3 linked regions of the Homo sapiens genome follow. The protein of the gene in region 1 purifies or fractionates together with the protein of each later gene. This does not show direct contact. Each region holds a gene or a part of one and is shown in the gene's direction. Other genes may lie near its edges.

The links.
Region 2: the proteins of CAP1 (region 1) and ERO1A fractionate together in Homo sapiens (co-fractionation; one large-scale study listed by BioGRID). This does not show direct contact.
Region 3: the proteins of CAP1 (region 1) and MAT2B fractionate together in Homo sapiens (co-fractionation; one large-scale study listed by BioGRID). This does not show direct contact.

The regions. Positions count from the first base shown.
Region 1 is NC_000001.11:40,068,092-40,071,744, forward strand, and holds part of CAP1 (adenylyl cyclase-associated protein 1), read left to right. Parts: intron 1-1,598; coding exon 1,599-1,783; intron 1,784-2,067; coding exon 2,068-2,191; intron 2,192-2,338; coding exon 2,339-2,421; intron 2,422-2,744; coding exon 2,745-2,888; intron 2,889-3,358; coding exon 3,359-3,442; 3' UTR 3,443-3,653. UniProt on the Homo sapiens protein: Directly regulates filament dynamics and has been implicated in a number of complex developmental and morphological processes, including mRNA localization and the establishment of cell polarity.
Region 2 is NC_000014.9:52,689,032-52,692,684, reverse strand, and holds part of ERO1A (ERO1-like protein alpha isoform 2 precursor), read left to right. Parts: intron 1-3,653. UniProt on the Homo sapiens protein: Oxidoreductase involved in disulfide bond formation in the endoplasmic reticulum. Efficiently reoxidizes P4HB/PDI, the enzyme catalyzing protein disulfide formation, in order to allow P4HB to sustain additional rounds of disulfide formation.
Region 3 is NC_000005.10:163,515,571-163,519,323, forward strand, and holds part of MAT2B (methionine adenosyltransferase 2 subunit beta), read left to right. Parts: intron 1-947; coding exon 948-1,141; intron 1,142-1,990; coding exon 1,991-2,104; intron 2,105-2,622; coding exon 2,623-2,793; 3' UTR 2,794-3,753.

The DNA.
Region 1 (3,653 bases):
GCATGAGAGTGACCTAATGTTGGTATAAAGTAGATACCCTTAACACAGCTGGTGGAAGTCTGAGTTGTCCAGCCACTTCTAGGAATCTATGATCATAGTAGCTAAAAATGGTGTAACAACCTAAATCCAACTGTAAGAGAAATGGCTAACTACCACATGTCCTCTTGATGAAATGTTTTTTATTTTTTTATTTTTTTTGAGACGGAGTTTTGCTCGTTTCCCAGCCTGGAGTGCAATGGCGCGATCTCGGCTCACCGCAACCTCCACCTCCCAGGTTCAAGCAATTCTCCTGCCTCAGCCTCCCGAGTACCTGGGATTACAGCCATGCGTCACCATGCCTGGCTAATTTTTTTTTTTTGTATTTTTAGTAGAGATGGGGTTTCTCCATGTTGGTCAGCCTGGTCTCAAACTCCTGACCTCAGGTGATCTGCCCACCTCGGCCTCCCAAAGTGCTGGGATTACAGGTGTGAGCCACCACGCCCGGCCTCTTGATGAAATGTTGTGCCACCATTACATGTTTTTCTACAGTGAACCATGTAATGTTTAAGAAAAAAAAAATCTAGTATGTAAATTACAACCACAAGGAATGGTGGAGATAAAAAGGCCATTCAGTATTTGTTATACAGTTAACATAGATCTGGCCATGTTCAAAGCGAGGCGTGTGTCAGCCTGCTGTGGGAGATGATGAATTATTTTTCCCTTAAAACATAAAAGAAATATATTTTTACTTTTATTTTTTATTTTATTTTATTTTTTTTGAGATGGGAGTCTCACTTTGTTGCTCAGGCTGGAGTGCAGTGGCGTGATCTTGGCTCACTGCAATCTCTGCCTCCCAGGTTCAAGCAGTTCTCCTGCCTCAGCCTCCTAAATAGCTGGGACTACAGCACCTGCCACCACACCCGGCTAATTTTTTTGTACTTTTAGTAGAGACTAAAAATACACCATGGTAGCCAGGCTGGTTTTGAACTCCTAACTTCAGGTGATCCGCCTGCCTTGGCCTCCCAGAGTGTGGGATTACAGGCATGAGCCACAGCGCCTGGCCTAGAAAGATATTAAACTACAGGTTAACATGAGAAAGTTTTTAAGTGTCAATAGTTGAACTAAATTTGTTAACAATCTGTATGATTATAACCAACAAAACCAAATATATGTAGAAAACAATATTGTAGAGTTGCAAATGCCAACACTGACTGAGGAGGTGGGGGAAGTAGGGTTAGCTGTGGGGAGTGAGGGTATTTTTTTCTTTTCCTTTTACCAAATTTTCTTTACTACCACTCATTTTTCTTTATTGCTTTAAAAATTATATATTTGTGCACATACATTTGATATGTCTTTCTAGACATAGAGGATAAGGATTTACATATCCTTATCCTCACCCACAATATACACACATTCCATGTTGTTGTTAATGGAACCATATAATTTAATCTTGGGGAGAAGAGAAATGATAAAAGTACTTTTCCAAAACTGCTTGCAAGAGAACATCTCAAAGGCTCTGGTTTTGGCTTTGAATTTTCTGTTAAGGATGTTTAACATGACGATAGCAGCTCAAAGGTCTGGTATGAAGGACAGGAACAAGGTAGCTGTTGTTCTTACAGCCCTGAAACATGTATCTGATGACATGAAGACTCACAAGAACCCTGCCCTGAAGGCTCAGAGTGGTCCAGTACGCAGTGGCCCCAAACCATTCTCTGCACCTAAACCCCAAACCAGCCCATCCCCCAAACGAGCCACAAAGAAGGAGCCAGCTGTACTTGAACTGGAGGGCAAGAAGTGGAGAGTGGTGAGTTAAAAATACCTAGACAGGGGCAGGTATTTTTATTATTTTATTTTTTTGAGATGGAGTTTCACTTTGTCGCCCAGGCTGGAGTGCAGTGGCGCGATTTCGGCTTACCGCAACCTCCGCCTCCCGGGGAAAAGGAGTAGGAACAGGAGGTTAAATGGAGCTTAGCTAGATGAGGGCAGAGTTCTGGCTTCAATTGCAAGAACAAAAAGTTTGGGATAGCCTGGTTATTTTTTGTTCGGTGTGTGCTTTGTGATGAGAATCCTGGGATCTCTCTCTAACAGGAAAATCAGGAAAATGTTTCCAACCTGGTGATTGAGGACACAGAGCTGAAACAGGTGGCTTACATATACAAGTGTGTCAACACGACATTGCAAATCAAGGGCAAAATTAACTCCATTACAGTAGGTGAGTCTTTGTCGCTGTCCCACGCAAGCCCCGTCCCAGAGCCCGAGAAGGCTAATACCATTTTACCTACCCTATCCTTAAAGATTCCTAAATGTATATTACTTTCCTTTAAAGTTACACGTTGACACACTCCCTTTCTTCTCCTAGATAACTGTAAGAAACTTGGCCTGGTATTCGATGACGTGGTGGGCATTGTGGAGATAATCAACAGTAAGGATGTCAAAGTTCAGGTAACTCGATATTTTGGCTCCTTCTTTTTGTCCCTGAGGAATTAATTCAAAGAGACATGGTAGACCCACAGATGTTGCTTTGGTGGGAATCTGATTCTACAAAGTCTGTAAGCTGAGCTGCTTTGGACGTGGCAGAAGAAGGGTTGGCTCTTCAAGCAAGTTCTTTTCAGGACCCATCCCAACCCACCCGAGTATCCAGTGTCTTGCGCATCTGTGAGCTTTTCATGTAGTTGCTGAGTCACGTGAAACAGGAAACCTTTTCCTGCGACTTACTGTTGTCCTTCCCAACCACTGGGACTCAGTTCTCTTTGTTTACTCTGCAGGTAATGGGTAAAGTGCCAACCATATCCATCAACAAAACAGATGGCTGCCATGCTTACCTGAGCAAGAATTCCCTGGATTGTGAAATAGTCAGTGCCAAATCTTCCGAGATGAATGTCCTCATTCCTACAGAAGGCGGTGACTTTGTAAGTTTCTTGATCTCTTTAGTATGATGTTAAAAACAGAAGGGACTGAAGATTTCTGGCATTGAAGAAAGCTATTTTATGAACATTCTGCACTGAGCAGGTAAAAACCCAATAATGCACACCAAAAGTACACAGAAATGAGGTAGTCCCATGTAGTGGAGCCCCAAAGGTAGGTGCTTTCTGCCTAAGTGGAGCTCAAGGTAGCAAAAAATAATGGGGATGAGCCATGGCACCTTGTCAGGCTGGTGCTATAAAGCCATATGTACTGTTATTTACACCCCATAGACTTAATAGTCTGTCCAAGATCGCTGAACACTAGAACATAGCATGGCTCTGTGGGTTTGTCTCTTGCTACATTGTACCGTGCTCCTGGGGTTAAGTGGAAGCAAGCATTGGGAGAAATGTGTGAGATTTAGCCCCAGCTGTTCTTTAGCTCAGATTTAAACCTGCTGTCTCTTCTTTATTTGCAGAATGAATTCCCAGTTCCTGAGCAGTTCAAGACCCTATGGAACGGGCAGAAGTTGGTCACCACAGTGACAGAAATTGCTGGATAAGCGAAGTGCCACTGGGTTCTTTGCCCTCCCTTCACACCATGGGATAAATCTGTATCAAGACGGTTCTTTTCTAGATTTCCTCTACCTTTTTGCTCTTAAAACTGCTTCTCTGCTCTGAGAAGCACAGCTACCTGCCTTCACTGAAATATACCTCAGGCTGAAATTTGGGGTGGGATAGCAGGTCAGTTGATCTTCTGCAGGAAGGTGCAGC
Region 2 (3,653 bases), on another chromosome or scaffold:
TATAGTTTAGTGAATAATGTTCATTGGGGATTCGTGGGAGGCACAGATCCTAAGCACTTAAAAAACAAGTTAGGAAATATTGCTAGAAACTAAGTTAAAAACTAAATTTCCACCAGATGTTTGGAAATACAAGTTAAAATCTTCTCTGGTTCTGTTTACAATATCCAGTGAGCTGCACAGTCCCGTTGATTGTTTTGGTAATAGTTTTATCTTTTCTTCCTGTTGCCTGTCCCTCTTACCACATCTGCCTTGGGTTACCACATCCCCATCCATCATCACACTGCTGCATGGTGCCTGGCTTATAGTAGGGTTCAGTTCACAGAATGTCCGCTCTGATTTGAGCTAGAGCAGTGACCTTAGAAAGTCACTGAATTAAAATGTGTAGAGCTCTACAAGTAATCAGATTAAATTCATCAAGCATATGTTGAAACCTACTGTGAACAATTTTTGGGAGATCAAAAAATGAATTAAAGGTGTGACACTTCCAAGAAGTGAGCCTGGTGAATAATTGGTGCTCAACAAGTCCTAGGGAAATTATAAGATGCAAGCACTATGCCAACAGGAGTATATTTTAAAAATTATTCTGCTTAGCAAGCCATTTGCATGTTTTCTGGAACTGATCTTTCAGATTGGTTGATAGCTCCAACTGAGTCTTTGAATTTGGTCAGTTGCTACATATGCCTGTTAGTTGATATCAAATCCTGCTAAAATTATTTTCACTGTATGTTGTAAGTTCCTTTGATAATAGTGCTTAAGTGTTAGTTGCTCAAAATGAATGATTAATTGCCTTAGACTTGTAAATCTGTATATGTAACCTCATGTAAGAATTGTATATACAACCTAGGCCAGGCATGGTGGCTCACGATGTTTGTAAACTCTTACTTGCTCATGATGTTTTATCAATCTTAATATGGCTAGTGCTAGTAACACTCAGGATAGCTTATTTGAGCACAGTAAATCTCTGTCAGGCTAATGAAAGGGGAGAGTAGCTCAGAGTCCAAAATAAATACTCCAAAAATGGATCTTTTTTAGCTTGGAGCGCATTTAGTAGATTTAACCTGTCAAGTGTCTTGTTAGGTCAGTTGAAACAATGGTTTTAATTGTTAGCCTGGTGGCTGGGCCGTGGGAGAGACACTTGCTAATATGTTGAGTGGTGGATGGAAATAAGCCCAGGATTATAACTTAGTCAGAGGGATCTTTGAAACAGGTTACACTGGAGAGGTGTCCACTGACTCTATGTGTGTGCTGCATTCCAGGCTTTTCTGAATAAACTGTGTGGAAGAAATATTTTCCTGATGGTTGCCAGTCATTTGACAATTTAAAGTTTCGGCAAGACTAAGTCTTTAAAGCCAAAATGACCTGTAGCGTTCTAGGTCCTTAGGATGGTGCCTACTACCTGGTGTGGAATCTTTGGTATTTCCCTGCTTCCATTGACAGACTTGTCCCAGTGTACTTCTGTCAACAGATGAGTACTTTTTATGTTATTTTTTTATGGTGATAAAACACAGTAAAATTAAATACACCTGAAGTTCTTTGCCAAATAAAGCACACTTTGAGCACATTGATTTATTTATGTATTTCTCTCCACCTTTATTGACACATAAAAATTGCATATATTGGCTGGGTGTGGTGGCTTACGCCTGTAATTCCAACACTTTGGGAGGCTGAGGCACGTGGATCACCTGAGGTTGGGGGTTCGAGACCAGTCTGACCAACATGAAGAAACCCCATCTCTACTAAAAATACAAAATTAGCTGGGCGTGGTGGCACATGCCTGTAATCCCAGCTACTCAGGAGGCTGAGGCAGGAGAATTGCTTGAATCCGGGAGGCAGAGGTTGTGGTGAGGTGAGATCGCACCATCACACTCCAGCCTGGATGACAAGAGCAAAACTGCGTGTCAGAAGAAAAAAGAAATGCATATATTTAAGGTGTACCACATAATGTTTTGATATATAAAAGGTCCTTATCCTTTTTTTTTCTTTTGAGACAGAGTCTCACTTTGTCACTCAGGCTGGAGTGCAGTGGCGTGATCTTGGCTCACTGCAAACTCTGCCTCCTGGGTTCAAGTGATTCTCCTGCCTCAGCCTCCCAAGTAGCTGGGACTACAGGCACCCGCCACCTTGCCCTGTTGGCCAGGCTGATTTTGAACTCCTGACCTCAGGTGATCTGCCCTCCTTGGCCTCCCAAAGTGCTGGGATTATAGACATGAGCCACTGTGCCCGGCCCTTGCCCATTTTTTAATTGGGTTATTTGTTTTTTTGTTGTTGAGTTGTATGAGTTCCTTTTATATTTTGGATAATAACATCTTGTCAGACAGATGGTCTGCAAATATTTTCTCCCATTCTGTAGGTTGCCTTTTCATTTTGTTGCTTGTTTCTTTGTTACATAGAAACATTTTAGTTGCATGTAGTCCCACTTACTTATTTTTGCTTTTATTGCTGGTCTTCTTGGTGTCACATAAAAAATCATTGCCAAGACTAATGTCATGGAGCTTTTCTCCTATGTTTTTTTCTAGGAGTCTTGGTGTTTCAGGGCTAACATTTAAGTCTTTAATCAGCTTTTAGTTGACTTTTGTGTGTGTTGTAAGATAAAGATCCAATTTCATTTTTTTGCACATGGATATCCAGTTTTCCCACCACCATTTATTGACAAGACTGTGCTTTCCCATTGTTTGGTCTTGGTCAAAGATTAGTTGGCCAGACATGTGTGGGTTTATTTCTGGGCTTTCTATTGTTTTCCATTGGTCTATGTATGTGTTTCTATGCTGATACAACACTGTTGTGATGACTGTAGCTTTGTAATATAATTTGAAATTACAAAGTAGGCTGCTTCCAGGTTTGTTCTTGCAAAATTGCTGTAGCTACTTGGGGTCTTTTGCTGTTCCATCCAAATTTTACAATTTTTTTTTCTATTTTTGTGAAAAATGCCATTGGAGTTTTGATAGAAATTGCATTGAATCTGCAGAACACTTTGGGTGGTATGGGCTTTTTAACAATATTAATTCTCTCAATTTATGAACATGGGATATCTTTCCATTTATTTGTGTAATCTTCAGTTTTTTTAATCACTGCTTTATAGTTTTCAGCATACTGATCGTTCCTCTCCTTGTTAAATTTATTCCTAAGTAGTTTATTCTTTTTCATTCTATTCTAAATAGAATTGTTTTCTTAATTTTTTTTTGGATAGTTCATTGTTAGTGTATAGAAGCACAATTGATTTTTGTATGTTGATTTTGTATCTTGTAATTTTGCTGAATTTATTCTAATGGTTTTCTGGTGGAGTCTTTAGGATTTTCTATATATAAGATCATGTCATCTGCAAAAAGAGACAATTTTACGTATTTTTTATTTGGATACCTTTTATTTCTTTCACTTTCCTAATTCACACTTTGAGCATGTTTAAAAGGTATTTCATAAAAAATGTATATGAGGGCCGGGCGCAGTGGCTCATGCCTGTAATCCCAGCACTCTGGGAGGCTGAGGCGGGTGGATCACCTGAGGTCAGGAGTTTGAGACCAGCCTGACCAACATGGTGAAACCCTGTGTCTGCTAAAATACAAAATTAGCCGGGCATGGTGGCAGGCACCTGTAATCCCAGCTACTTGGGAGGCTGAGGCAGGAGAGTCTCTTGCACCTGGGAGGCAGAGGTTGCA
Region 3 (3,753 bases), on another chromosome or scaffold:
AGGAATTTTCTCATTTATGCCAAAAATGTCCTTTATTGCTTTTATTTTTTAATCTAGCATCCAGTCAAAGACTATTCATTGCATTCAGTTGTCATGATAAGTTTTATTTTTAATGATCATATTAATGTAGGATTTATATATATAAAAAAAACTAGTCCAAATGACAGAAGATACTTAACAAATGTGGTTTTGCCTTTTTCTTTTTTTTTTTTTTTTTTTTTTTTTTGAGACAGGGTCTCAGTCGCCTGGGCTGGAGTGCAGTAGGGTGAACACAGCTCACTATAGCCTTGACCTCCTTGGCTTAAGCAATCCTCCCACCACGAACGGCTAATTTTTTTACATTTTGTAGAGACGAGGTCTCACTGTGTTGTCCACGCTGGTCTCGAACTCCTGGGCTCAAGTAGTCCTCCTGCCTTGGACTCCCAAGTGCTGGAATTACAGTCATGAGCCCCACCGCACTCAGCCTTTGACTGTTTTTAATTTTATTTTTGAGGCAGGGTCTCACTCTGTTGCCCAGGCTGGAGTACAGTGGTGCAGTCATAGCTCATTGCAACCTTGAACTTCAGGCTCAAGAGATCCTTTTGCCTTACTCAGCCTCCCAAGTAGCTGGGACTACAGGCATGTGCCACCATGCCCAGCTAATTTTCATTTTAATTTTTTGTAGAGACGGAGTTTTGCTATGATGCCCGGGCTGATCTTGAACTCCTGGCTTCAAGTGATCCTTCTGCCTTGGCCTCCCAAAGTGCTAGCATTATAGGCATGAGTCACTGTGCCTGGCCTTGAATATTTTTACATTGCGTTGTCACAAGTGAGCTGTGTCATTTTGGTATATTTTAATTAAAAGGCAAGGTTTCTACTTTGATATTATTTAAATCCACACCCTTGTATCTTACATCAAAATTTAAGAATCAGTCAGCTTTAAATTATTTGCTTTTATTCTTCTCTAGGAGCTGCTGTTTTGAGGATTCCTATTCTGTATGGGGAAGTTGAAAAGCTCGAAGAAAGTGCTGTGACTGTTATGTTTGATAAAGTGCAGTTCAGCAACAAGTCAGCAAACATGGATCACTGGCAGCAGAGGTTCCCCACACATGTCAAAGATGTGGCCACTGTGTGCCGGCAGCTAGCAGAGAAGAGAATGCTGGTAAGAAGGATTCCTGAGTCCTGTCTTAGCGAAGGTCCGCTTTGTCTTTTCCATGCTTGAACTTTCACAGCTGTACTTGGAGTGTTACTGAGTGAAAGCCAAAAGTGCTTTTTTAAAACTAGGAGACCAAACAAAAGTAGTTTACATATACACTGTATTCATGAAGAATAAAAATATTATGCTCTTCTGTTTGAATTTATTTCTTATGTACTATAGATCCCATCATTTCTTTTATTGCAAAGTGTTAGGAAACTTCAAAATAATCATCTAAGGTCTTTTAAGAAGATACTCTTTGGGGGCTGGGCGTGATGGCTCACACCTGTAATCCCAGCACATTTGAAAAAGTTGGTATTAAATATAATATCCATACAAAGAAAGATGAGACTGATTTAGTTTAGAATATTAATAGGATGACCACAGTTTTTTAATATATGAGAATTATATTTTGTAATATATAACATGACAATATTTAAGAAAGTTTAGCTCAACTTGAAAAATGGTTCTATTAAGTTTTTGTTGTAGCTTGGGATAATTAAAAATACTCATTAAATTGTACTGTTTTCATAAAAATTTGTAATGCTTTTTTATATTCCCACTAATTAAGTAAAATTGGAGCCTTTTTTTGATTTTAAAAATTCTTAAGGTTTAAATTCTAGAAATTGCTCTTTTAAGTGTTTTGCTAAGAGTATTAGTAGGAATTTGATTTTAGATATCTTGTGGAGACCTTTCCAGAAAAAGAGGGTTGCCTTTTAGTTCCTGGACCTTATTTTAAGTAAGCTTTTTGGTCAAACCTATTCTACTCAGCTCAAAAAGTTGAAACTATTGAATTTATTGTGTCATCGTTCTTAGGATCCATCAATTAAGGGAACCTTTCACTGGTCTGGCAATGAACAGATGACTAAGTATGAAATGGCATGTGCAATTGCAGATGCCTTCAACCTCCCCAGCAGTCACTTAAGACCTGTAAGTACATGGCTGTAAAAACCTTTAGATCCATTGCTATGGTATATATTATTGCTGTGTTGGGTAACTTCATTTCTCAGTACTAATCAAAGTGAACTTTGCTTGTATGCTGGCTGTTCATAGTGCTACTTTTCTCTAAATTATCATCTGTAGAGAAGATCATGAGTATTGAAGTTTGTAGAAAATGTATTATTGTCTTGATCATGACAGGCATTTGGTTTATTTTTCCAGGGATGATCAAATCAGATTTCTTACACTAAGAGCAAAAATAAGTAGCAAATATAAAACCTCAAAATGGCCAGGCACAATGGCTCATGCCTGTAATCCCAACACTTTGGGAGGCTGACGCAGGAGGATCCCTTGAGCCCAGGAATTTGAGACTAGCCTGGGCAATGGAGGGAGATCTCATCTCTGTTTAAAAATATATACATATTTAAAAAAAGGTCAGGGGGAACAAAGCCCTCAAAATATAGCCTTTCACTTACTTTTGATTTTTTTGTGTTTATCTTTCTTTAAAGATTACTGACAGCCCTGTCCTAGGAGCACAACGTCCGAGAAATGCTCAGCTTGACTGCTCCAAATTGGAGACCTTGGGCATTGGCCAACGAACACCATTTCGAATTGGAATCAAAGAATCACTTTGGCCTTTCCTCATTGACAAGAGATGGAGACAAACGGTCTTTCATTAGTTTATTTGTGTTGGGTTCTTTTTTTTTTTTAAATGAAAAGTATAGTATGTGGCACTTTTTAAAGAACAAAGGAAATAGTTTTGTATGAGTACTTTAATTGTGACTCTTAGGATCTTTCAGGTAAATGATGCTCTTGCACTAGTGAAATTGTCTAAAGAAACTAAAGGGCAGTCATGCCCTGTTTGCAGTAATTTTTCTTTTTATCATTTTGTTTGTCCTGGCTAAACTTGGAGTTTGAGTATAGTAAATTATGATCCTTAAATATTTGAGAGTCAGGATGAAGCAGATCTGCTGTAGACTTTTCAGATGAAATTGTTCATTCTCGTAACCTCCATATTTTCAGGATTTTTGAAGCTGTTGACCTTTTCATGTTGATTATTTTAAATTGTGTGAAATAGTATAAAAATCATTGGTGTTCATTATTTGCTTTGCCTGAGCTCAGATCAAAATGTTTGAAGAAAGGAACTTTATTTTTGCAAGTTACGTACAGTTTTTATGCTTGAGATATTTCAACATGTTATGTATATTGGAACTTCTACAGCTTGATGCCTCCTGCTTTTATAGCAGTTTATGGGGAGCACTTGAAAGAGCGTGTGTACATGTATTTTTTTTCTAGGCAAACATTGAATGCAAACGTGTATTTTTTTAATATAAATATATAACTGTCCTTTTCATCCCATGTTGCCGCTAAGTGATATTTCATATGTGTGGTTATACTCATAATAATGGGCCTTGTAAGTCTTTTCACCATTCATGAATAATAATAAATATGTACTGCTGGCATGTAATGCTTAGTTTTCTTGTATTTACTTCTTTTTTTAAATGTAAGGACCAAACTTCTAAACTAATTGTTCTTTTGTTGCTTTAATTTTTAAAAATTACATTCTTCTGATGTAACATGTGATACATACAAAAGAATATAGTTTAATATGTATTGAAATAAAACACAATAAAATTAAC